7 linked regions of the Homo sapiens genome follow. The protein of the gene in region 1 purifies or fractionates together with the protein of each later gene. This does not show direct contact. Each region holds a gene or a part of one and is shown on either strand. Other genes may lie near its edges. The genes, in order: GXYLT1, DSC2, ITGB4, ST14, KREMEN2, ABHD17B and CLGN.

Region 1 (3,500 bases):
TAGGACAAAGGTCATAGTTTATTTATTTGCCTTGCTGTCACCTGGTTCTTACTACTTGTGGCTGTTCATTTCGAACCTGGTGTATTATAGTTATGTATATTAAAAAGTTAAAATAGGTCCAGGTGTGGTGGCTCACGCCTGTAATTCCAAGACTTTGGGAGACCGAGGTGGGTGGATCACTTGAGGCCAGGAGTGTGAGACCAGTCTGACCAACACAGTGAAACCCCATCTCTACTAAAAATAGAAAAAATGAGCTGTGCATGGTGGTGCATGCCTGTATTCCCAGCTACTTGGGAGGCTGAGACAGAATTGCTTGAACCAGGGAGGCAGAGGTTGCAGTGAGCTGATATTGGGCCACTGCACTCCAGCCTGAGCTACAGAGTGACAATGTGAGTGAGACTCTGTCTCAAAAGAAAAAAAAAATTAAAAAATTTAAATTCAAATAATTTAATTTAATGAAATAATTATTAAATTAAATTAAATATTAAATACAACTTTTTAAAAATCATAATTTTTAATCTCATAATTGTATATTTGCTAGATAATGAATAACATTGGTTAAATGATTACGTTCTATTTTGCAGTATCGTATTTGCCGTGTTGAATCCCTATTAGGGTATTTATTTTCTCTCCTTCTAAAAAATGTATTACTGTATTTCTTAGCCTTTTCCTGTTTATTAGAGAAAAACCAAAGAGTATAAATTAGACATGGTGGGAATTTTTTCTTTGTTTACTCTGCCCTTTTCAGCTTTCTATATATTATTTTGTAGAGTATTTTTTTGTCTGTTTGCTCCACCTACTGAGGGCAGGATGTGTCTTTTATACAGCTTTATATTAAGAATATTTAGCACAGTGTCTGACATAAAGTAGCAACTTGATAGATAATTGCTAGCAAAGGAGAGTCAGATGAAGGTTTTAGAAACTAGGCCATTAATGAATTGAAAAATACTGGAAAAGGGAACACTTTGTATGAAGTAGATACAATGCTTTTACATATTTGTAAGATGTATGTGATAAAGAGTTTTCTTGTGTTAGTACATAGCTTATGAGAGCAGAATAACAACAACGAACATCTTGCCAAAGGGGTAGAACTTTTTAAAGTGAAGTAACTAATCTTTGGGAATTGATGAGTTCCCACTTTTTTGTTGGAGCATAATGTGAATGCGCTTTAATTTTATATGTATGTATAGGACAGGCTGATAATGACAGTCCATTCATTTTCAAAGCATGCTTAATTCAAAAAATGAAACTAATTGATCTTGATGTAACATACATGTATTTGGTCATAGGTTTGCTAAATTTTGTAAAATTAGAACTACAGTTTTCTGTTTTAAATGTTATGAAACTAAATTGTGCTTATAAAGATTCAAAAAAGTAATTTTATGTAGAATGAAAAGACAGGTCTCCCCTTGACATATCTCTTCACACTTTCATGCCTCCACCCAGAGTGACACTATAAACTTGGCTATGTGTTCTTTGGACCTTTTAAAAAGTGCATTTTGAGGCTGGGTGCAGTGGCTCATGCCTGTAATCCCAGCACTTTGGGAGGCCGAGGCAGGTGGATCACTTGAGGTCAGGAGTCCTAGACCAGCCTGGCTAATATGGTGAAACCCCATCTCTACTAAAAATACAAAAATTAGCCAGGCATGGTGGCAGGTGCCTGTAATTCCAGCTACTCGGGAGCCTGAGGCATGAGAATCACTTGAACCCAGAAGGTGGAGGTTGCAGTGAGCCAAGATTGCGCCACTGCACTCCAGCCTGGGCGACAGAGTGAGACTCTGTCTCAAAAAAAAAAAAAAGTATTTTGAAACAAGCATAGGTGTGCATTAGCATTTAGATATAGGATTCTTTTATACATCTTCAGCTTTTTTCATTTAGTAAATATATAGTTGACTGACTTCTATGTCATTACACATAATCACATTTTTAATGTGTGTATGATGTGGAGAATGGATGATTTTATTTTCTCTTTTTGTGTGTACCTAGTATGGATATGTAGTTGTATGGCTGAAAATATATTTTAAAATTCATATTTTCTTGACTATACTACCGGTGTGGTTAAAAATCTTTTCTTATAATTTGTAGCCATTTCTGTTTCTTCTTTTGTGAATGGCTGCTTGCCCATATCCTTTGCCCACTTCTTGGTTTTCTCTTTCTTATTGACTTGAACTCCTTTTATATGTAATACCTCTTTATTAAACTCATTTCTCATAGCTTTTCATTGGTTGTCTTGGATAATCTAGGTTATATCATTAGCAAATAATACTAGCGTTATCGCTTCTTTTCCAAATAGTTTTCTAATGGGACTTTTTTCTTTAAGGTTTTTTTCCCTTTTTATTTTTTTCCTAAGACTGCAGTGAACTCTTAATTTTGTATTTCATTGATGCTCTTTGAATAGGTACATTTCTTGTAAGATATATATTCAAATATATATATTTGATTTATATTGGTTTTTATAATTTAAATATGTATCTGTATTTCTGTGTATATTTGAATAGATAGAATCACATGAAGACTTTAACATGGTGTTGTACAAGGGCTCCACCAGTTCTGTCTGTTGAAAGTGTTCCTGGTTTTTGTCCTTGTGTAATTGATATTTTTCTTTTCAGATCCTAAGAATATTTCCTTAACATACTCAATGACTTATTTCTAAGAGTTATCTTTTCAAATTGTTTCCTTAAGTAAAACTTGTTTTAGTCATTTTCCAGATTAAAAAAAATTCTGATTATAATTACTATTTACTGTGTTCTAAGAAATTTCACACAAGGATAATAATGCAGTTGTAGCACATCAATTTAAGTATGTGGATTTTTTTTTTTTCATGAATTCTGGCCTTCTCTTTTTTAAAGGATAGATTGTTTATATCGTCACTGAATTTAATATAAATTATAAAATGACTTATAACAATGTTTCTCAAACTATGGCAAAAGATTAATTTTTAAAAAATTTTCAGTATGTTATGAGCCAATACTTTTGTAAAAGAGAGATTACTAGAGAAATATATTAAGTACACATAAAACTGTTAACTTGCTGTAAAAGTTTCTAAATCTTACTCTTAATTTCTATACTTAATTACTTAATCTTATTGAGGACATAGAAAAAATTTACATAGTAGCACACTATGTGAACTGCTGTGAACTGCACTATGAAGAATACTGGTTTTTACTCTGGATAGTCCCCGAGTCACATAGATCTAAAAGGCCCGGTATTCACTTCTACCCCTTCCAACACCAAGTTCTCATTGGACTCAGTTTCTTGCTCCCTTAAGTATTTAACTTTGGGTTTTCAAATAACAAGTTTTGAGCATTAAGAAAAAAGCATTACATTCAGTATCTGAAAAAGCACTAAATTCAGTATCTTTTTTATTTTAAAAAAGCATAAAATATAAATTGATAGATTATTAGTATTATATTTTTATCTCATTTCAAAAGGCAGCATTGTGCTTAATGGCTAAACAGTAGGAGCTTTCCAGTTAAAATGAAGATAAGGATATCTATTAA
Region 2 (3,500 bases), on another chromosome or scaffold:
CACAGAAAAACTGGGCTAGGAAAAGTCTGGCACTGTCCCAGGGGCATCAAAGCTGTGCTAGTTTTTGAACCATTTAAAGATATTGGTTACAAAATAGATATTGTATTATATGGACTTTTTAAAAAAAAAAATACCTAAACAAAAGATTATCAAAAACTAATATATTCTTTCCATTGTATATGAAGAACAGAGCATTTGCATTTACTTATATACCTATTTTATTCTACATTTATCAGAATTCCTTTCTTTCCATTAAATTCTAGCATGCTATTCTATGATATTATAAACTACAAATAATGTTCTAATTTATTCTTACCTTAACTACACAAAGAACTCCTTCATTGGTTTTGGCATCTGTTACAATTTTAAAATTGCCATTTTCATTGCCCTTTAAAATGGTATAATTAGCTCTCCAGTTAGCAGTATTCACTAAGTCCTTATCCTCAACAGTAACTCGTAAGATTTCCACATCAACTGTATTTTCTTCCACTGATGTCACATACTAAAATAATAAAAGCAAACAAAAAATTTCGTTAGTAACTCTCACAAAAATTGAACACGATGTGAAGTAAATCCTACTCTTCTAATTTCCAAAGTACTATGTTTACATGATTTGAAACCCTAGCACTATACAACTTTTAATGTCACTGGGGCACTTCATTTGAAATCATGAGGGGTGGATGGGGATGTGCATTTTTTTCTTTTCCTTCACTGCAACCTCTGCCTTCCACGTTCAGGCGATTCTCCTGCCTCAGCTTCCCGAGTAGATGGGATTACAGGTGCCTGTCACCATGCCCGGCTAATTTTTGTATTTTCTGTAGAGACGGGATTTCACCATGTTGGCCAGGCTGTTCTCAAACTCCTGACCTCAGGTGATCCGCCCGCCTCGGCCTCCCAAAGTGCTGAGATTACAGGCGTGAGCCACTGCGCCAGGCCAGAGATGTGCATATTAAACAATTAAAACTGGTCTATACATTTTTCTTTAATTAATATCATACACTTACAGAAGTACGAGTAAATGTTGGCAAGTGGTCATTTACATCATCAATGTTAATGATACAAGTTGAAGTTGTCTGTAGACCAAAATACTGACCATCCATGTCTTGTACTTTTATTTTCAACTGGTACTTGTCAATTAACTGAAAACAAAAAAAGAATTTAATTATTGGGGGAAAGCACCAACATTATAATTGAAATCTTACTTTACACTCCATAATTTTTTTGCACTAAGAATTTAAGAAGTGCATTATTACATTTCACAGCATTCGTGTATTAGAAGAATTTTCTCTCACTAGTAATTTTTCTTTTCTTTTCTTTCTTTTTCTTTTCTGAGACGAAGTCTCGCTCTGTTGCCCAGGCTGGAGTGCAGTGGTGTGATCTTGGCTCACTGCAACCTCTGCCTCCCGGGTTCAAGCGAGGCAGGAGAATCACACTAGGAATTTTTAATCAATTTATGAAAATTGAATAGTTTCTCAAATTTATAGTGCTATTAACTTACAGAATATAGATTCAATTGGTTTTGTCTTTATTCAACAGAAAAAGAAGAGCTATTTGCCACAAGTGCATTTAAAATTGCCTGGTAATTAATCAAAACCTTTATCTCCTAGCCAAAGTACATTCTTATGTTCAAAAAAATAGACAGCAATGACTCTTAAAATAGTCTTTTAACAAAACAATAAAATGAAATTTCTTCCTGCAAAAAATATAGATTTTAAGGGTTTATGTTACATTTAAGAGATCATCTAAACTGACATGAAGATAAAGGTCTGGGGCTATGTAGGTTTTTTTCTTTCTGTGGAAAATAGAATCTGGCTCTTAAGGCTTTCAATTTATCAGATATTGTTGAAAACTCATCACTACCTTAAAAAATATTTTTAAACATCTGAAGCATTTAAATATTTTAAAGTGTTTCTCCTTATAACTTTCATTTATCATAAGTGATTGAGATATGGGAGAATTAAAAACAATACAGTAATAATGCTTTCCGGACTGAGCATTAGGAGACTTGGGTTCTATTTCCAACTCCAAAAATAAGAGACACAATCTTGGGCAATTGGAAAATTCACTTTGTCTAGGTTTCTTCTTCTATAAGATGGTGATGCTTACCTTTCCTACCTAATTTATCTCTTTTCATAAGACAAAATAGCATGTTAAAATCTATCCTCATCTTCTACCTAGAATGTTCACCCTTCTCTTACAAAGATTCTTCCCTTAATTCCATCATCTCTGAAACTTTCTTTTCCTTAGGCATTATCTAAAATAAAACTAAAGTTTCTCTTGATCTTCCTGCTTTTAACACACATAATTTTCCAGATTTACTCCTCCCTCATAACCAATCACATGTGTAGACTTGAAAAATAATGGCCTTATTTCAACTGAAAAATTTTAAAACATCATGCTACTGTACTTTCAAGAAGGAATACATATTTTGTTTGTAGTGAACTAAAATTTATTGGAAATAATTAACTGGCTAATGAAACAAGGAAATGAAGTTTGATACCCTAAGTATTAACTTATGCTATCTTCAGATGGAAGAGAAATTCTGATGTTTAAAGGGACTAAAAGGTTGTAGGCAACTGAAGAAAACCGGAATCCTGAGGTCAAAAAGTTACTAGAGAGCACCACTGGATAAACACCTTCACTGGACAAGTGTTTTCAACTGATTATTTCAGAAGAATCTATTCAAAGAAAAGCACTTCTGTGATTGTTTGATTTAGGAGCTGAACAAGCTGTTGAGTTTTTGCTTTTTTTTTTTTTCCATAGAATGCTATTTTCACATAGACATCTATGGCTATGCAGACTATAGTTTTATGAAAGTATTTTGTAAAACATAAAGTTAATCTGTCACTTCAGGGAAAACAACTATTTGTTGCCAATGATAAATTGGAGATTTCAAACAAAAATGAGAAGCTTGGAAAACCTTTATCAACCAATGTGATATCAATGGAAGTAAAGAGGTGATCTTTTTGATATTATTTAATGCAATGTGTCAATATTTGGAAGCTCTGCATTACTTGGTGAACCAATATTTTCCAAATGACCAATGCACAATATAGAATGATGTACTGGTAAAATGGTCACTCAAAGTGTAAGATAGAGCAATGGATTTTAACGTAATAAAGTACAAAAGGTCATTGTTGAGGATTCAGAGTCCACATTACCAAAAACATTTAGGAAACAAGCTACTCCTTATCAAGTATTCATGTAGTATCAAGGAATAATATCCACAGTGATCTGTAATTATCATCAAAATACTACTCTCTTTTCTAATTTTATATCATGTCAGATTGCCTTTATATATGCTTCAGCTAAAACTACATATTGTAACAGACTAAATGCAGAAGGAGATATGAGAATCCACCTGTCTTAAGCAAAATACTAAAAACATTTGGAAAAATGCATAACAATGTCATTCTTCCCACTAAATTGTACTGTTTTGGAAAATGTACTTATTTTGTAAGTACAAAAAGAAGAAAAAGTGTAACAATTTTTACTGTTAT
Region 3 (3,500 bases), on another chromosome or scaffold:
CACTGGACATTTGAGCCCCCAAAAACCTTCCCTTCCATTCTCAAGGGAAGAATCTCGGTCAGACCCTACTCACCACTGGGGACTTCTGAGAAGGCCCAGGGCAGGCGGGCAGTGGAGCCATCTGGCCCTGACAAGGAGGGCACCCCCTGCCACGAGGCTGTGGGGAAGCTTCTGCTCCTCAGAGCTGGGCTGCATTCCCAGCCACCCTGCCCTTGCTGTACGCATAACTCCAGACCCCCAGTCCCATTTCCCTCATCCATAAATAGGAACAGACAATGTTGTGAGCATGAACCTTTGTCCAGCATGCAAAGCGTTAACCTCCCTCTTCCTCCCTTCTGAGCCAGCCCTTGGTGGGGGGCCCGTGTTTATGCCAGGCATCAGGGCTCAGCTATCCCCTCTCTGTCCTTTTGACATCCAGCTCGGGTCCTGAGCCAGCTCACCAGCGACTACACTATTGGATTTGGCAAGTTTGTGGACAAAGTCAGCGTCCCGCAGACGGACATGAGGCCTGAGAAGTAAGTGACTGTGTGGGTCCCGCAGGTGGGCAAGGGTCCAGGCCATGTGACCCCCACTCCTCTTTCACCCACAACTTAAAATTATCCTTCTACGGCTGGGCACGGTGGCTCATGCCTGTAATCCCAGCACTTTGGGAGACCAGGGCGGGCAGATCACCTGAGGTCAGAAGTTCAAGACCAGCCTGGGCAACATGGCAAAACCCCATCTCTACTAAAAAATACAAAAATTGGCTGGGCGCGGTGGTTCACGCCTGTAATCCTAGCACTTTGGGAGGCCAAGGCGGGTGGATCACGAGGTCAGGAGATCGAGACCATCCTGGCTAACACGGTGAAACCCCGTCTCTACTAAAAATACAAAAGATTAGCCAGGCGTGATGGTGGGCACCGGTAGTCCCAGCTACTCGGGAGGCTGAGGCAGGAGAATGGCGTGAACCCGGGAGGCGGAGCTTGCAATGAGCCAGGATTGCGCCACTGCACTCCAGCCTGGGCGACAGAATGAGACTCTGTCTCAACAAAAAAAAAAAAAAAAAAAAAATTAGCCAGGTGTGGTGGTGGGCGCCTGTAATTCCAGCTACTTGGGAGGCTGAGGCAGGAGAATCACTTGAACCCAGGAGGCAGAGGTTGCAGTGAGCCAAGATCGTGCATACCGCACACCAGCCTGGGTGATAAAGCGAGACTTGGTCTCAAAAAAAAAAAAAAAAATTCTCCTTCTAGTTGAAACGAGCCAGGGGCACTGGGGTCTGCGGCGTCTTCCCCCTGTGACACTCTCTCTCCCTCCCACCTCTGCCCAGGCTGAAGGAGCCCTGGCCCAACAGTGACCCCCCCTTCTCCTTCAAGAACGTCATCAGCCTGACAGAAGATGTGGATGAGTTCCGGAATAAACTGCAGGGAGAGCGGATCTCAGGCAACCTGGATGCTCCTGAGGGCGGCTTCGATGCCATCCTGCAGACAGCTGTGTGCACGGTGGGCACTGGGAAGGGTGCTGCCAGCCTAGGCCAGGGGTGAGCACTTCTGGGCAAGGGCCTGAGCTGCCCCCTGGCCTGCTCTGGTGCCAGGCTCACAGGCCCTGAGGGAAAGCCTGGGAGCCTGCAACCCCTTCACCCTGAGACAAGCTCAGACTCTGTGAGTAGGTCTCAGTTACAATCTGAGTTCAGATGTGCCTGGAGCCACGGTCCCCTGGCCTGAGCAGTCACAGCCTGGTTTCGTATCAGCTACCAAGGCAGACCTGGGCTTTAGCGTTCTGGAATCTTTAGTACCCTGAACCCACCAGCTGCCCAGACTCCACCTGTTCTGGGCATCCAAATAAGCCATTTCCTTTGATATGTACATCCATTTGTTCATTCTGAAAATGACATACCCATATTACTAGGTTAGAAAACAAAGAGCTAGCCAAGGCGTGGTGGCTCACACCTGTAATCCCAGCACTTTGGGAGGCCGAGGCGGGGGGATTGCTTGAATTCAGGATTTGAGACCAGCCTGGGAAACATGGCAAGACCCTGTCTCTACAGAAAACACAAAAATTAGCTGGGTGTGATGCACGCCTGTGGCCCCAGCGCCTTGCGGGGGCCGCATCTCCAGCTCCTGTTTCTCAGCGTTGTCACTCAGTCATGTGCCGTCAGATGCATCTTTCATGAGGGCACTTGCTGTGAATCCAGTGGCTTAAGCCCAGCCCCATGTTGGGACCCGCGTTCCCCGTCCTACACGACGCCGTGATGCGTGTCAGCAGGCAGCCTGCTCAGTGGGCACGCCCCGCCTTGCCTTCCCCAGAGGGACATTGGCTGGCGCCCGGACAGCACCCACCTGCTGGTCTTCTCCACCGAGTCAGCCTTCCACTATGAGGCTGATGGCGCCAACGTGCTGGCTGGCATCATGAGCCGCAACGATGAACGGTGCCACCTGGACACCACGGGCACCTACACCCAGTACAGGACACAGGACTACCCGTCGGTGCCCACCCTGGTGCGCCTGCTCGCCAAGCACAACATCATCCCCATCTTTGCTGTCACCAACTACTCCTATAGCTACTACGAGGTGCGGGGCCCAGGTCCCACGGGTGGGAGGTGGTCAAGGTAGGGGGTCCATGGAGCTTCTCAGACACCTCTCCCTCCCTCCCTCCCTCCCTCCCTCCCTTCCTCCCTTCCTCCCTCCCTCTTTTCCTCCCTTTCCTTCCTCCCTTCCCAAAGCCTTTAGACCCCCCAAAATGTGGGCCCTAGTGGGAAGGGGAGGTCATGTGCCCATCTTCCACCCCAACTCCCAAGCAGGTGGGGGCTAAGAGGGCAGGCTCTGCGACACCACAGTAGGTTCCAGGCCTCAGTTTCCCCATCCTCAAAGTGGGAAGAATCCTAGAGCTGTTCAGATTCATGGAGATGCTTAGCCTGAGACCTGGCCTTCTCTCCCGCAGAAGCTTCACACCTATTTCCCTGTCTCCTCACTGGGGGTGCTGCAGGAGGACTCGTCCAACATCGTGGAGCTGCTGGAGGAGGCCTTCAATGTGAGGGCAGCTCAGGCTCCAGAGTCTGAGCCCTTCTGGGGCAGGGCAGGAAGTGGGCAGGGTGGGCAAGAGGTGTCTTGGATCACGGTGGAGAAATGGGTCTGGGACAGACCAGTGAGGAAGGGTCTCTAGCTATCCCTGAGGCCCCGAGGGGCCACCTGGGCCTGGCCCTGGCTCCTGCAGGCTCTGTGATACCCCGCATGATGCCAGCCACACTTGGAGGTTGGGGTGGAGCACAGAGGCCCCCCACAGAGCACTGATCAACCTCCTTCCTCCTTTAGCGGATCCGCTCCAACCTGGACATCCGGGCCCTAGACAGCCCCCGAGGCCTTCGGACAGAGGTCACCTCCAAGATGTTCCAGAAGACGAGGACTGGGTCCTTTCACATCCGGCGGGGGGAAGTGGTACGCCTCTGTGGGGGCAGCGGGGTGGGGGATAGGCACAGCGCCCCACACCGAGTGGAATCGTTTAAAACAGCGGTCAAGAGCGTGGCC
Region 4 (4,245 bases), on another chromosome or scaffold:
TGACCCTCTGAATAGCCAGAGGTGTACACCCTGGCCCCTAGACATCTGATTTTGGCCACACAACATCCGATTTTTCCAAACTTGGTCTCTGGATGCCTAAGGGATGCTGAGTCTTACCTAGGGCAATTGTGATCGGAAAAGGAACCAGTGGATGTCAAGGCAGCTTCATATTCACCATCAAATACTCAACAGGAATCAAGACCCTCAGGGAGGCAGGCTCCCTGGCTCTCATTAATGGCCATAAGAAGTGGCATCTGTTTCCCTGCTTGCTTGCAGGCAGGGCTCACACCATCCCCAGATGCAGTAACGTGCATCAGGACTCTGAAGGCCACGCAGAACACTTGATGGGAACAGCAGGGGTGGGGCAGGGGCCACACCACCAGCCTTGGGAAGGGGACAGCCAGATACAAATACCACCAAACAAGGGTGCACGGATGGATGCAACTGGGGACAAGGAACCCAGAAACAACAGCACCCTGTGGGCCAGGCTCTGCTGACCCAGATAATAAACCCAGGGGCAGCAGCCACACCTCCCGGCCGGGGATGGACATCCTAGCTGCAAACACACACTACAGGGTGATCCCAGGGACTGGGATTTCTGGTGAGGCCAGGGATGGGAGGAATCTGCAAGACATGGAAATGAGCTTTGGCCAATTTCCTCTGGACACTCCGCCTCACAGCTAACTTTGGCATTCGTCTCTTAGTTTCGCTCTCAAGACTGGATGTTCTTTAAAGGAAACAACCACATCTTACTGGTCTCTGAGAGCCTTCCCTTCACCCATGGGACTAGGTACTGAGTTAGTTCAATAAAGCTCGGCAGGAGAAAAGACAAAGAGCAAGCCAAGAGAATGAAAATGGCAGAGGGGGAAGGAACAGCCCAAGGGCGCAGAGAGCAAATGAGCTTCGCAGAGGAGGAGGAAATGAGCAGGGATGGGGGAAACTAAAGCCAGGGCTTGCAGGTGACAAGACAAGTCCGCTGAATGTGGGATCCTGGGGGTGAGTGGAAGGTGAGCCCCAGCCTGGCTGCTTGTCAGGTGGTGAGATGGCTCAGAGAGGAGGCTGGACCACACGACCAGGAAGACCCTGCTTTCCCCGTGTGGGCAGGAGAGTCCTAGAAAGGGAAGTCAGGGAGAACAAACTTGGGGTGGGGGCACCGGACTGCCCTGAAATAACAAATTCCAAACAGCAGGTTCTCTGCTGAAGAGGCAGGGAGTCTAGAACCCCAAGTAGGCAATTAGCAAGGACACAAACATAGCAATTACAGCAAGGAAGAGAAGGTGAATCTGCCTCACAGCAGGGCACAGGCACAGCCAGGGGAAGGGCCCAAGCCTTCAGGTCCACTGGAAGCTTTCCTCCTTGCTGAGGGTGAAAAGTGGAGAAAATAGCAGAGCCCAGCCCCAGGTCCTGTCTGTGGTGCAGGCAGCCTCCAAAGCCCCAGCGTCTGATTTTCTGCAAGCTCCCTAGGTCGGGATGCTGCTTGGACAAAAGGAATTGATCTGAGACAGCACCAAAATCAGGCCTGACTTAGGGAGCAACGGCGGAGACTATGGAGCCCAGGGGCACCCGGAAGGAGGGGAGAAAGTGAGGGTTGGCAGGGCAGGGAGGCCATCATTTGCAGAGGAGCAAAACTCTCTGCCACACAGCCCCTGCCTCTCAGCGCCGCCCTGACCTGGTATGCCCTGGCCTTCCAGGAAACCTGGGGGTCTGCCTTGGACAGAGAGGGTAGAGACCTGGCTGCTGGTCCCGCCCGGGCACTACCACCTAGGTGGGTCCGTCAATGAAGTGACTAGCGACCCATCCCCAACTCCATACAGGAACATGTAATCTTTTTGAGATCTTTCAATAGGTCTTTCATTGTTCTTTCTGCCAAAGAAGAGCTTCCTGTTTCGGTACTTCGCAAAAGGCTCAAGACATGTGTGTTCCCACATCCCTTCCCATACAGCCGCCTTCCCAAAGGGCTCCATCCCCTCTCGAGAAGCCCAGGCAAGCCCAACTCTGGAGTTCTTAGCTCCAGCCCGTATGGCAGCCAAAGCCCTGGCCTCCCAGTTGTCCTCTGCGAGGTCCCAAAGCGCCTTTTGACGGGGAAGGAGAGAGACGAAAGAAACTTTCTGCAGAGGCCAAGGATGGCTGAGACTCCAAACCCTCCTGAAATTTCACTTCCTCCCAAATAACCCCACTCCAAGCCCCTGGTTTCTTCCAGATGTTCACTAACAGCGCGAGAGTCATGGAGGGGCCGAGACGGAGCCCCTTTTTTCAACTCAGGGAAAGAAAGGACCGAGGGCGCAGGAAGGCCCAGGGGCTTCCCGCCTCCCCCTGGCGGGGCGCAGCCGGTCCGGTACCAAAGGTCCGGCCAGCCCCGCCCGCCCGCGGCCCGGCACCCGCTGAACAGGAAATTCCACCTGTGCGCCCAGAGCTCGGCCACCGACGGACACGCCAGGGGAGCCGGCCGAGCCCAGCGCCGCGCTGCAGGGTCGGGCGGGCAGGAGCTTCCCAGCGCCCCGGGTCCCCGGCCCGCGCTCACCTCGTGCCGGGAGTTGTACTTGAGTCCCGCGCCGAAGTCCTTCGGGCCCCCTCCGCCCTTGCGGGCCCGATCGCTCCCCATGGTCCCCGAGGCCGCTCGCGGGTCTCACAGGCGTCGTCCCTGCCGGCGGCCGGCTCCCATGGCCCGCAGGGCGCGGGGCGCGGGGCGCAGGCGGCGGGATTCCGGGCAGGCCCAGCGCGCCCGACCGGCGGCGGTGCCCTCGCCCTGGCGCGCTCTCTCTCCCTCTTCCTCTTTCTCCGGCTGCAGCTCCGCTCTCACACTCCGGCCCGGCCCACGCAGGTAGTTTCAGGGTGTGGCCTCGGCCCGCCCAGCCCGCCGCGCTCGCCTGCGCACCTGCCCGGCTCACCTGCCCGCCCCCGCCGGCCCTGGGGGAGGCTCCTCCCCTCGGCTCTGGGCCTGAAGGTGAGGGGGCCTCACTCGGGTGGTGGTCGCTAAGGCCCTCACCATCACCACGACGGCGTTCACCACCCCTCCGGCCCTCCAGGGGCCCTGCCCCGGGAGGGCAGCCCTTTATCCACCTCCTTGATGCCAACCATCTTTTCCCTCCTCCCTCATGCGCCTCCGGTCTCTCCCCTTCACCTTGCTCACTTTGCTACAGGACTAAATCGCATTTATGAACCCCCCAAAACCAAACAGAAACCAGAACCGCCCCTGGCCCAGGCTCCCCGTCGGCTACGCAGCCTCCTGTTCTCCAGGCGGGAGGCGCTTGCTGGCCTGCGCCCGGCTACCCTGGGGAGGCCCAGTGACATGAGCTGTGCCACCAGATGCCCTCTGAGCCATCCCAACGCCCCTCGCCCACTTGCAGCATCTGATGCTTCCTCAAATGCCCCCTTTCCCTGGATTCCGGTCCTCCTTTCTAGTCCTAAATGTCATGATTCCCAAAGTTCTCCCTTCAGTTTCATCCCTTTCTTCTCTAAGCTTTTTCTCTTGGCAGCACGTCTCATCTTACGACTTCAGACAGGAAGACCTCCCTCCCAGCACAGACACCACCAAGGAGTGCCAGTTCTGCCTTAGCGGTCGCCTGGGGACGTCTCCATTTATGTTCTACTGTATTCTGTAGCCAATGAACATTACCAAGCACACACTAGGCGCTAAGCACTGTCCTGGGTACAGGGAAACAGGAGTGAACAAAATAAAAATCCCTGCTTTGAGATCAACAAGCCCCATCTTCCTTCCCTGACTTGCCCATTTTCCACTGTTTTCTCTAATTCTAATGGCAGCATTCTCCCAGGCTCAAATCCTGGAATCATCTTTGATTCTCCACCCTGCTTACATCTCATATCCAATTAGTTCCAAATCTGATCAAGACTCTGCTGACAAGCATAGCCCTTCCATTCCTGCGCATTAGAAGACCGCTATTCGAGTCCTCAGAGCCCTTTGCCTGGTTAAGAAAGATCTCCTGCCTCTGGGCTGCCACCCTCTGATCTCTCCTACACAAAGCAGTCAGGTAAATCTGAAACCACAGCTCCTTTATGACTTTCCGTGTCTCCCGGATCAAATCCAACCTCCTTAGCCCAGCTTCACACTCTGCCCTGTCCTCCCTTAACACCGTGCCTCCAAGCATTCCTGTTTGGAGCCCCTCTCTCCAGCCAGGCGTTCTGATCTTGGCAGCTTTCATAAAGCTTTTCATCCCCTGGAAGCTCTTCTCCTTCATACTCCTTCCGCATATTGGGTCGAAGACACCGATGGGGTTTTTTAGTGTT
Region 5 (4,286 bases), on another chromosome or scaffold:
GCGGGTCGGCCAGCTCGAAGAGGCGGAAGGTGAGCTCCAGCGCGGCGCCTGGCGGGCCCAGGGCCCAGCTGCAGTTCCGGTCCGGCCCGTACTCGTCCGGGAAGTCCGGGGAGTAGATGACGCCCTGAGGCGCTGTCCAGTTCCCCTGGCAGGAGCCCACCGACACTGCGGGCGGGGCCGGCAGTCAGCATCCTGAGGACCAGGACACGGCGGCTCCCCTGCCCGGCCAGGCCCCACCTCGAGGCCCGCCCAGGCCCCTGGTCCCCGCCCACTCCTCACCTTCATAGACGCCCAGCCGCCCATCGCCGCCACACAGCTGTCCAGGGTGGCCGAAACAGATCTGGTCACAGTCGGTGGCGGGGGCCAGGCGTCCCCGGGCCAGGTCGCTTTCAGAGCCACAGAAGCAGGCGTAACCGGCCTCCACGCCCGCCAGCTGGGAGCACAGACTGGGTGACCCCAGGGCAGGGGCTGGGGTAGGGGTGAAGTGGTGGGGGCCTGGGGTCGGGGTGGGAATCGGGCTGGAGGTTCAGAAACCGGTGTCTGGGTTTGGCAACCGAGTGTTGGGAGTTGAGTGTGGTCTTTAGGTCCAGGTCAGGGGTCACTGGTCTGGGCCCGTGAGCAGTACCTGGTACCCCTTCATGCGGCAGAAGCGTAGGCACACCTGGACCGTGAGCTTCGTGGAGGTGCCGCTGGGGCCGCTGAGGGCTGGGGGTGCCCCTGAGTCCACAAAGCATCCCAGGTAGCCTGGCACTGAGGGGGCAGAGTCAGACTTCCGTGACTCCGAAAACAACCCTCCTCCCAGATGCAGCAGCGTTCCCACCTCTGTCCAGCCGCGCTACTCACTGTGACAGGAGGGGATGTCGCAGTAGCGCCAGTAGATGCCCTCCTCTGTCTCAGCCACGTAGCACCACGGCTGCACGTCACCGTCTGGGTTACTGCGGGTGGGAGGGAGGTGGTGGGGCTCCCACCACCCCAAGAATAGCAAACCCAGGCCCGGCCCCGCAGCCTATGCTCAAAGTGGCCTTCAAGGCTCTGTGCCTGTGAGCGGCTGTGCTGCCTGCTGTACACCCACAAATTCCAGTTTTGTCTACGCAGAACTCTGCCTGATGAAGGAACTGGACGTCGACTTCCGAGTGGACAGCGGGAAGTCATTAAAGGGGACTTGAGAGCTGTTTTTAGGCTTCAGCTGTTGCTAGACTTGACTCCATATATGAGGACTTTGAGGCCATCTGTATTCTTCACCCCCACCCGGCATGGGCCTCAGCCACTTCCGTCCCTCAAACCCCACTTTTTTTTTTTTTTTTTGAGACGAGTCTCGCTCTGTCACCCAGGCTAGAGTGCATTGGCGCGATCTCTGCTCACTGCAAGCTCCGCCTCCCGGGTTCAAGCGATTCTCCTGCCTCAGCCTCCTGAGTAGCTGGGATTACAGGCGCCCGCCACCATGCCCCGCTAATTTTTTGTATTTTTAGTAGAAATGGGGTTTCACCATGGTAGCCAGGCTGGTCTCGAACTCCTGACCTCAGATGATCCGCCTGCCTTGGCCTCCCAAAGTGCTGGGATTACAGGCTGAGCCACCGCGCCTGGCCTCCAACCCCACTTAAAAGCAGAAGTGAGCTCCTGAGCTTTGCGGCTCTCCTCCCGCTGGGTCCATCCTGCCTCAGACCGTAGCTGTGGCTCTGAACCCCAAAATAAGTTGTATGACAAGAGCCCCACTCTGACAAGGCCCCGCCCATTCGGCCCCCGCTCTGACCAGGCCCCGCCCATACGGGTCCTTTGAGTGCCCAGGTCCGTTTCTCTCCTGGCCCTGAACTGGAGCTCTGCAGAAATTGTTCACCTGAGGAGGATCCCTTTTGCGCCAGGGTTCCGCGCGCCCCGCCCCGCCCCGCCCCGCCCCTCATTCTGGCCCCGCCCCCAGGTTCTCCAGGAGGCTGGGCTGCCAGTCCACGGCAGACCTCCACCCCGCCCGCACGGAGGCCCCGCTTCGGGCCATCCCTGCAATGGTGAGCCCAGCCTCGCCCCCAGCGCAGGCCCCGCCCCTCACCGGCAGAAGTTGTGCGCGCCCAGCCCCCAGCGGCCGTGGGGGTCGCTGGCGCTGCTGTAGCTGTGTTGCTGCGTCTGGTCCCAGAAGAGGCACGGGCGGCCCGCCCCGCGCGGGCCAGTGCGGTTCTGGTGGCCGCGGTAGTCAGCCCCATTCACCTGGAAGCATTCGGACAGGCCTGCACGGCAAAGGCAGGGCCTGGGGAGGTCCGGACCCACGCCGGGCATCCTCGCGCCCCTACGCCACCTCCCGCCTGGGTCCCCAGCCAGCGACCCCGCACCCGCCCCTGCAGGAGCCCTCGGGCTGCTCAGCTGCTCCGGCCACCTGCTCTGTCCCCCTCCCTAGCCTTGGGGGCCTGGCCCTGGGGGCGGAGGCCGAGGAAGGGGTGGTGAACACGGCCCGACAGCCGTGCGGGGACTTACCTGGACTGTGCAGGCTCCCAGCCGAGGCCCCACGCGGCTGCAGCAGCGGGAGGAAGAGGAGAAAGAGGAAGCCCTGCAGGGCTTGTGTCCCCATCGCTCTCAACCAAGGATAGGTCACCCTCGCCCGGACACGGCCCGGGCTGCCCCCGGGGTCGCTTCGGGGTCTCCCAGGAGACCTAGGGGGCGTTGTCCTCTGACAGTCTCCCCTCGTCCGACTCTGAGCCGCGCTTTCCGTCTGGGGTGGGTAAATCTCTCCTGGGGGTCTTTGCCTCCCAGGGCCTCTGCCCCTAGAGGCGTCTCTCTGTCCCTGTCCCTACCCGGGTCTCTCCGGGGGGAATCTGGCCGGGGGCGTTCTCAGTCTCTGTCTCAGCGAGCTCTGGGCGGTGCCTCAGCCTCTACGCCCGCCCCCTCCCACTGAGCCTAGCTCTCGGCGTCTCCCTCGCCCAGGTCTCCAACGGGCTGACTCCTGCCCGCCTCGCATCCCTCCGTGGGTCCCTCCCCCTGGGTCTCTCCCTCCCCCCATGGGAGGCCGGGAAGCCCCGCCCAGCACTGGAGCGGAGGCAGCAGGTCCAGACGCCTCCCACGCCCGTTCCCCCGACCCCGGGCGTCCAGCGCTTCCCGGCCCCCTCTCCCTCAGGTCGGTGCCGGTTCAAGTGGGAAGGTGTGGAGGGGGACAGGCGGGGCAAGCGGACGGAAGGCCCTTAAAATGGGAGATACAGAACCCCCTCACGTGGTCGCACGCGCCCCAGGACACCCGGAATGTCCGAGTTACAAGCGCCCTCCTCCCAGTGCACGCACGCGCTCGCACTCTCTCCCATTCATTGCCAGGCGCTCACGCGCACACTTTCTTCGGATCCGCACGCCCCTCCCGCCCCTGGTCCAGATGCCGCTGGCCTGACGGAGGAAGCTCCACTCCCTGCCCCCGCGCCCACGAGACAGGCGGGAGTCGTGGACGCTCAGTCCGGGACAGGCAGGGGCAGCTGGTGTCTGGGGAGAAAGGCAGCTGCGCCCCAGGTCCCAGTCTGTCCCCTCCTCCTCCCCCTGCCCCGCCCTTCCCTGGGACCCCCAGCCCAGACTCTCCCGAGCCTTCACACTGCAGTGGAATTCCCCCAGCCGTGCCCCCCACCTGGCGGGGGAGGGGGAGGGGAGCAGGCCCAGGCAGGCGTGGGGGGAAATTCCCCGCCCCCTCCCCCTGGGCCCGACTCCTCCGAGTCCTCTGATCTCCCAGCGCCACCCGCCCGCTGCCCCCAGGGCTTGGGGGGAGGCCAGCGCAGGTGCGTGGGAGGGCGGAGGCGGGGGCCGGGGGAAGGAACTGGTGGGGGCCGGGCGCCCAGAGCGGCCCCGCCCCGCCCAGACCTCTTTGCCCCTCAGTCCAGCCTGCCCAGCCCGCACCAGGCCCTCGCCAAGCTGTCGAGCCCAGGCCGACCAGTCCCCGCCCTGCAGCCCCCACACCGTCTCTGCCCCGGTGTCGATGGAGAAGAAAGATGGGGTTCAGGGAGGTTCTGTCAGGCCCAGGCACCCACTGCGGTGCTGGGACCCGCGAGGATCTTCCAGCTGGCGCCTCACGCGAGTGTGCTCTGGAGGAGGGGCGTGGAGCCGAGGTGGGGGCATTTGAAGGAGATGGACTTGCTGAGACTCTAGGCCAGGGTCCTGGTCGCCTCCTCCGGGAGCCCTCTCAGAGGCCAGGCTGGCCCGGCTCACTGAGCCCTGAGCTGGGGCCTCCAGCACCCACGGGCTCCCTGGAACCCAACTGCGCTTCCCGACGAGGGAGCATCCGGGACCACCTGTCTGCCCGGTTTCTCTTGGCGGGGGCTCAGTGAAGTCCT
Region 6 (3,500 bases), on another chromosome or scaffold:
GACTAAATGGTTGAGAATATCTGGGGGAAAAAATGCCCTTTTCACTCAATACAGAATCAAATATATCCTATAATGCTCAGTATAAATGTGTTTATAAGAAGCAGCAGAAAAAAGCACAGGAAGAGAGGAACAAGGGTAGGTATAACATAAAAGACTTCAAAAGGTGAGGGAAGGGCAGAAAAACATCTTGGATATTAGGAAATGCTTTAATTGCTTCCTACCTTTATTTCTTTTTAGGCTTCAAAATACAGCCTGAATAAGTTAATGGCTTACTCTGGTTGGAACAAGAAATAGGACAGAAATAACAACTAAGTGTCATCTGCTAACTTTAACTGAGGGCTTCCTGAAGTGTTGTGCTGAGAATGATTCTAAGGCATACACAGGGCTTAGCCAGCAAAAGATGTGATAAATTAGTGATGTTTACTATAGACTCTGGCTACAAATTTACTATCCTGGTCAGGAGGATAAAGTGTCTGTTGAAGAAGATGAAAGGGAAGGAACTCAAAGGATCTGTTCCAGAGGAGGAAATGACCTGCAGAAAGATGATGAGGTACAAGGTATAATATCAGTGCTGTCTGTTTAATATCTGTCTATGGTTATTTGTCAACCCTGATTACCTCATATACCATTGACTGCTGAGCCACAATAGCCTTTTAAAAAGCTTAATAAGTAAATGGTACGTATCTAGACTATAGTCCTATAATTTATCTCTTAGCCAGAAACACTTTTGTTGTTGTTTTTCGAGACGAAGTCTCACTCTATCGCCCAGGCTGGAGTGCAGTGGTGCGATCTTGGCTCACTGCAACCTCCGCCTCCCACATTCAAGTGATTCTCCTGCCTCAGCCTCCCCAGTAGCTGGGATTACAGGCACACACCACCATGCCCAGCTAATTTTTGTATTTTTAGTAGAGATGGGGTTTCATGATGTTGGCCAGGCTAGTCTCGAACTCCTGACCTCAAATGATCTGCCTGCCTTGGCCTCCCAAACTGCTGGGATTACAGGCATGAGCCACCGCACCCAGCAGAAAAACTTTCATACACTATAATAAACTACTTTTGAAATAAAGCTGGCTGGTTGAACATATATAATGCTGTGAAGAAGTTTCTGGGGATGAACACCAAAGGAGAGAAGCAGAAAGGAGAAAAACTGCAGTGCCAGGGTCTAGTTTAATGACAACTTCACTTCCTTAATGCTGACAGAATGACTCCCCTCTTCCACTGCCCAAAAGCCAGATAACTGGGGCTTATTTAATGACAACAACTTGCAAATGATCACTTTCCTAATAAGAGGCCTGGTATAGGGCAGCAACACAGACCTACTTTCAAAAGTTAATTGAATACTTTTTAAGTCTGAAAAATTTCACAAAAACTATAAACAAAACAAATAAATCTAGGTTTTAGTATAGTGTGAGCAAGTTACTGAAGAAAAACATTTTATTCTGTAAAAAAAAAAAAAAATCACTGAAATAGCTTGTTAAACTTAGATAATTTCAAGTCCAACTTGTTCTTATAAAACTCATGCCAGACGCAGTGGATTGCTTGAGCAGTTAACAGTTGAAAAACACATCAGTGAGCTAAAAGATCAGGTTGAGTAATTTGCAAATATGGAATTTTTTTGTGGGAATTAAGAGACAGAAAACAACAAAATTTAATAGATAGAAATAGAAGTAGAAATATCACTATCCATACTATAGAAGTTCCAGGAGAAAATAAAGATAAGACTATTTAAGAATTTCTCAGAATTAAAGGGGGAAAAAAAGTCAGATTGAAACACCTCAAAGTGTACCAAAAAACAACAAACTACTTAAAAATGAACAAGATCAGATGAACATATGACTTTCTAATATAAACACTGGAAGCCAAAAGACAATGGAGAGATAATTTTAAGCTAAAGATGAAATCAAACTTTTAACCTAGAATTGTACATAGAACAAAAATACAGTTTTAATATAAGGATAAAGGTATCTGGGCTGGGTGTGGTGGCTCACTCCTGTAATCCCAGCACTTTGGGAGGCCAAGATGGGAGGACCACTTAAGCAACATAGGAAAACATTGTCTCTATCAAAAAAAACAAAGAGAGAGAGAGATCTGCAGGCCCACAAAAACTCGTAAGACTTAACCAAATCAAGTCTCTCTTTGAAAAACTCCAGCAAGGAGGGAAGGAGATAAATCCAAGGGAAGGCCAGGCACAGTGGCTCACACCTATAATCCCAACACTTTGGGAGGCCGAGGTAGGAGGATTGCTTGAGCCCAGGAATTGAAAACCAGCCTGAGCACCATGGCAAAACTCCATCTCTATAAAAAATACAAAAATTAGCTGGGCATGGTAGTGTGTGCCTGTAATCTCAGCCACTGGCGTGGCTGGAGTGGGAGGACTGCTGGAGCATGGGAGGTCAAGGCTACAGCGAGCTGTGATAGAGCCACTACACTCCAGCCTGGGCTACAGAGTGAGAGCCTGTCTCAACAATAACAACAAAACAAACAAAAACCCCCCAAATCCCAAGGGACTTCTATGAGATATCTGAGATATGAGAAATAAAGGAGAATAGTTAATACAATGTTTTTTGTACAAGTGAGCAATGGGAGCAAGGAGGGTGAAGACAACAAAGTATATCCCTAAAAATCCAGAACAAAAACTTTGGTGAATATGAATACGAAGAGGATTGACAAAAGAGAGACTACTTAAGAGGTAAAAATGTGCTGGGGTACCTGACTTGTTGAGGATGCTACTGATACTGATAAGCTTAAGACATAGAAGAAAAGCCTGAATATAAGCATGACTCTTAATAAGTCAGATATAATCATCAGAAAAATGATAGTGCAGGGCACATCTAAAGGAGTTACAATTATCCATTACAAAAGTCTAGCTTTAAATATTAGTGTCCAACTTAAGAAGAGAGTAAACAAAAAGAAAACAAGAAAAAGAAAATTAAGAGCAGATATCAACAAAACAAAGAACAAAAAGCAATGGAGAACCAACAGCTGATTTCAGAAAAGGCTTCCACTACTACTAATAGCAAATAGCATTAACTGAACACTTACAAAGTGTCAGGCACTATTCTAAACACTTTTCACATATTAACTAATCCTTTCAACAATCCTCTGCTTTAGGGACTATTATTACACCCATTTTGCAATTGAGAAAACAGAGGCATAGAATAGTTACATAAGTTGCCTAATGTCACAAATCTGATCAATGGAACTGATACATGACAGAATGACTCTGTAACCCAAACTCATAACTACTGTTTTGTGGAAAGGGTACTCAGACAAGACTGATCACAAGAAAGAGATAAGCAAAATAAACGAAATAATGTACTAAAGGAAAAAGGACTTTGAGCTACAGACATAGTTTCTAGAAATGAAAGAATATCATGTGTCAATAAATAACCTAGACAAAACTCACGCACTTCTTGAGTAATATAAAAGGACAAAATTGGCACAAAGGCTAGAATATGCAAATAACCATCAGAACTTCAAAGGGAAATCAAAGACCACCT
Region 7 (3,500 bases), on another chromosome or scaffold:
AAGACCCTCAGTAAGGATATTATTTCTCTTATTAAAATAAAATTTAAAAAATCAAATGTTTTAGTTACAAGAGGTTCAAAACAAGAATCCCTCTTCACCTACTCTTTTGATGGTTTTTCGCTAGTGACCCAAGGAACCAAATGTAAGGTAAGAATTTTTCTTTATAGCAACTGAATTTAATGATACATTTTCTAAGATGCATTGTGTTGAAATATTTAGCCCAACCTTTTCTAAACAGTGTTAAGGTTTCGGGAAAAAACTGGAACAGAATTTAATAATGTTAAACTATAAATTCTTTGTACATTCCTCTAAGTAAAAAATAGTTAAATAAACAGTAATATTTAGATTATCATTGTCACTTAGGTCTTGAACTGGCAAGATGACAAAGATATTAAGTAGTCTTCTTCTATGAACAGTAAATAAGCATTAAATCCCATTAGTGATGTTATAATTTAATGAATAAAATGAGGACTTACATATGCATATATAGCTCATAATGAAGTAACATAAAAAGCAAAATATTCTGTCTACATAAACTTATTCAAACACATTTCCTTGGCATTTAGTAGTTACTGCACATTTATTTGCATTTAAAAGAGCCATCTGAATAACCTACAACCAAGACCAAGTATTATTATTCATAGTTATATCACTACTGCTATTGGTCAACACCATACCTTATTAGCATTTGCTATCATTATTTTCCATCTCCAACCATCTGCAGCCCAGTGATCTGCTACTTCCTTTTCCGAACAGATAATAAAATTATCAAAGTAGATATCAGAGGTCATAGACCAAAGCTCTAAACCAAGAGCACTGAAAGAAGTCAGAAGAAATGGATGATCATCTTCGAAATAATCTGGATTAGGAATTTTTCGAGGACTCCAGATTCCCTGGAAGAAAAGTAATTGAAGACATTTTCAAATAAAATAACTTCATTATAAATGCTGCTTAATAAGTAGCTGCTGTTGAATGAAATTCGCAATGCTAACTGGAAAAAAGAGAATTTTAACTGATATTAATTCATTAGTAATATACTGGATATAAAATCTTGTTTCTTTTGCTGTGTACACAATGTTCCCTACGAGTGATACTAACTTTAAATTCTGCAAGAAAAGGAAAAGGGAAAATCCAACATAAACAGAAACGTGAATAAATTTCACAATTTGTCTACTTTGGACAAATTTTTAGATTTAGTAAAGTTATTCATTGCAAAATGTTATTCAAGTTGTCCAAATCAGAAAGATCATTGTATAGCAAAAATGGAGTTACTCCATTTAACATATACCCATGACAGATATCATTAATCAGGTATGGTTGAATCTCGGCACAACTACTCAACCTAAAACTTCCATTAGATCTTAAATGATTAAACTGTCCATTAAATCAAATACATTCAACAATATCATTGCTCACTGACTCACTCCACCATCACATGTATGTATTCTGGGCCAGGCACTATGCCAGATGATGGAGACATACATGGTTCCTGTATTATGGAGTTTAAAGTCAAATAAAAGAGACAGACATCAAACAAAAAAATTTACCAAAAGAAACATTTTGTGTTAAATGCTTTTAATAAAAACTACAGTGAGTAATTAGAATATGAAACTGCATATATATAATGTTAGAACGTATCCATAAATAATTACAAAGATAAAACTAGAGGGTTAAGTGGATAACATAGAAACTTTTAATATAAAAAGCTAGGTACACTCAAAAGATGTCGATTGATATCAGAAAAAAATCAGGGCTGGGTTCGGTGGCTTACTTCTGTAACCTGAGCACTTTGGGAGGCCAAGGTGGGCGGATCACGGTCAGGAGTTCGAGACCAGCCTGACCAACATGTGAAACCCCGTCTCCGCTAAAAATACAAAAGTTAGCCGGGCGTGCTGGGGTGTGCCTGTAATCTCAGCTACGTAGGAGGGTGAATCAGGAGAATCGCCTGAGCCCAGGAGGCAGAGGCTGCAGTGAGCCAAGATCACGCCAGGCCAGGTTTTTTGTTTTTTTGTTTTTTTGTTTTGAGTCTTGCTGTGTCGCCAGGCGGGAGTGCAGTGGCACGATCTCAGCTCACTGCGATCTCCACCTCCAGGGTCCAAGAGATTCCCCTGCCTCAGCCTCCTGAGTAGCTGGGACTACAGGCGTGCGCCACCACATCTGGCTAATTTTTTGTATTTTTAGTGGAGACAGGGTTTCACCATGTTGACCAGGGTGGTCTCCATCTCCTGACCTCGTGATCCGCCCGCCTTGGACTCCCAAAGTGCTGGGATTACAGGCATGAGCCACCGTACCTGGCCAAAAATCAGAATTTTAATAATACTAAATAATAAGTACATTAATTAAGCACAGGCATTAATTACTAAAATGTACAATATGAGTCTATTTGATCAAAATTCACTTCTTATATTTACTTCTAAAATAGAACTTTATTTCAAAGTGAGCATCAACTGATAATTAGGGAAGAATATAGTATGAAGTGATTTATTTCCCCAGAAAATTAAATAATTGATGCTCTACTTTTAAAATATAAATTAGTTGAGGTCTATTTTCTTTGACATCTTAAAATTAAAAATGAAACTTCCAAAAGTTGACATAGGTAATTAGATATTTAAATAGAAAAGATCACAACATTTTTAACTTCACTAAATAATTGGAACAAGCGGTTGTTACCTGATAGTTAGGATTATCGACCAGTGGAGGTCTCCATACTCCTTTGTATTTTGGGTTATCTATCATGGGAGGTTTCCACTCACCACACCCAATCCGACATGCTGGATTAAGAATCTGAGGTGCCTCCCATTCTCCATCCGTGTCTTCATTCCTTAGGATATTAAAACAAAGCAAATACAGTAACCTCAAGTCTCAGATCAGTCATATAAACTAGTAACAAAAATGCATGTAAGAAACATTTGAAATCGACATTTGAAGATGAAGAGTGCTTACCAGTCATCAGGTTTTTCAGCATTAGGATCAGGGATAAATTTTGGTTCATCATCAAGCCAGCCAGCAGGTTTAACAACACTTGAATCTTCTATTTGGGCAGGTTCACTTTCATCCCTGTAAATACAACGTTTTATATTACTAATTATTCAGAAAGTTTAAAAATGCATGTTACAACACTAAGAAGGTACCATAAAATTATTTCCCTCCCTTTTGTTTGTGCCTGTTATTTGTCCTCATCTACTACCCACCTAAATCTTTTGCTAACTTGCCAATTTTTGGTACATATTCCCTGTTGTGCTCTATGCATACATGCACACACGTATACATTCTTTTTTTTAATACGAATGATAGCATTCTATACATAATGTATTAGACCTTGCTTTTGTTACTTAAAAACTCAGTCATTCATCAACAAATATATATTGCATGCTTACTATGTGTCAAGACTGTTCGAGGAGCTCCATTATTATTATTTTTTTCTTGAGGTGGAGTCTTGTTCTTGTTTCCCAGGCTGGAGTGCAATAGTGCGACCTCAGCTCACTGCAACCTCTGCCTTC

What was found.
Region 2: the proteins of GXYLT1 (region 1) and DSC2 purify together in Homo sapiens (affinity purification with mass spectrometry; one large-scale study listed by BioGRID and IntAct). This does not show direct contact.
Region 3: the proteins of GXYLT1 (region 1) and ITGB4 purify together in Homo sapiens (affinity purification with mass spectrometry; one large-scale study listed by BioGRID and IntAct). This does not show direct contact.
Region 4: the proteins of GXYLT1 (region 1) and ST14 purify together in Homo sapiens (affinity purification with mass spectrometry; one large-scale study listed by BioGRID and IntAct). This does not show direct contact.
Region 5: the proteins of GXYLT1 (region 1) and KREMEN2 purify together in Homo sapiens (affinity purification with mass spectrometry; one large-scale study listed by BioGRID and IntAct). This does not show direct contact.
Region 6: the proteins of GXYLT1 (region 1) and ABHD17B purify together in Homo sapiens (affinity purification with mass spectrometry; one large-scale study listed by BioGRID and IntAct). This does not show direct contact.
Region 7: the proteins of GXYLT1 (region 1) and CLGN purify together in Homo sapiens (affinity purification with mass spectrometry; one large-scale study listed by BioGRID and IntAct). This does not show direct contact.

Annotation. Positions count from the first base shown.
Region 1 is NC_000012.12:42,099,875-42,103,374, reverse strand, and holds part of GXYLT1 (glucoside xylosyltransferase 1), read left to right. Parts: intron 1-3,500. UniProt on the Homo sapiens protein: Glycosyltransferase which elongates the O-linked glucose attached to EGF-like repeats in the extracellular domain of Notch proteins by catalyzing the addition of xylose.
Region 2 is NC_000018.10:31,081,922-31,085,421, forward strand, and holds part of DSC2 (desmocollin-2 isoform Dsc2a preproprotein), read right to left. Parts: intron 1,140-3,500; coding exon 1,005-1,139; intron 503-1,004; coding exon 317-502; intron 1-316. UniProt on the Homo sapiens protein: A component of desmosome cell-cell junctions which are required for positive regulation of cellular adhesion.
Region 3 is NC_000017.11:75,727,959-75,731,458, forward strand, and holds part of ITGB4 (integrin beta-4 isoform 1 precursor), read left to right. Parts: intron 1-418; coding exon 419-515; intron 516-1,306; coding exon 1,307-1,478; intron 1,479-2,282; coding exon 2,283-2,546; intron 2,547-2,916; coding exon 2,917-3,006; intron 3,007-3,287; coding exon 3,288-3,410; intron 3,411-3,500. UniProt on the Homo sapiens protein: Integrin alpha-6/beta-4 is a receptor for laminin. Plays a critical structural role in the hemidesmosome of epithelial cells. Is required for the regulation of keratinocyte polarity and motility.
Region 4 is NC_000011.10:130,158,337-130,162,581, reverse strand, and holds the start of ST14 (suppressor of tumorigenicity 14 protein), read right to left. Parts: upstream 2,801-4,245; 5' UTR 2,603-2,800; coding exon 2,522-2,602; intron 1-2,521. UniProt on the Homo sapiens protein: Exhibits trypsin-like activity as defined by cleavage of synthetic substrates with Arg or Lys as the P1 site. Involved in the terminal differentiation of keratinocytes through prostasin (PRSS8) activation and filaggrin (FLG) processing.
Region 5 is NC_000016.10:2,962,789-2,967,074, reverse strand, and holds the start of KREMEN2 (kremen protein 2 isoform d precursor), read right to left. Parts: upstream 2,801-4,286; 5' UTR 2,555-2,800; coding exon 2,461-2,554; intron 2,217-2,460; coding exon 2,042-2,216; intron 936-2,041; coding exon 844-935; intron 751-843; coding exon 626-750; intron 434-625; coding exon 280-433; intron 166-279; coding exon 1-165. UniProt on the Homo sapiens protein: Receptor for Dickkopf proteins. Cooperates with DKK1/2 to inhibit Wnt/beta-catenin signaling by promoting the endocytosis of Wnt receptors LRP5 and LRP6.
Region 6 is NC_000009.12:71,876,694-71,880,193, forward strand, and holds part of ABHD17B (alpha/beta hydrolase domain-containing protein 17B), read right to left. Parts: intron 1-3,500. UniProt on the Homo sapiens protein: Hydrolyzes fatty acids from S-acylated cysteine residues in proteins. Has depalmitoylating activity towards DLG4/PSD95. Has depalmitoylating activity towards GAP43. Has depalmitoylating activity towards MAP6. Has depalmitoylating activity towards NRAS.
Region 7 is NC_000004.12:140,393,149-140,396,648, forward strand, and holds part of CLGN (calmegin precursor), read right to left. Parts: intron 3,058-3,500; coding exon 2,944-3,057; intron 2,822-2,943; coding exon 2,671-2,821; intron 894-2,670; coding exon 678-893; intron 1-677. UniProt on the Homo sapiens protein: Functions during spermatogenesis as a chaperone for a range of client proteins that are important for sperm adhesion onto the egg zona pellucida and for subsequent penetration of the zona pellucida.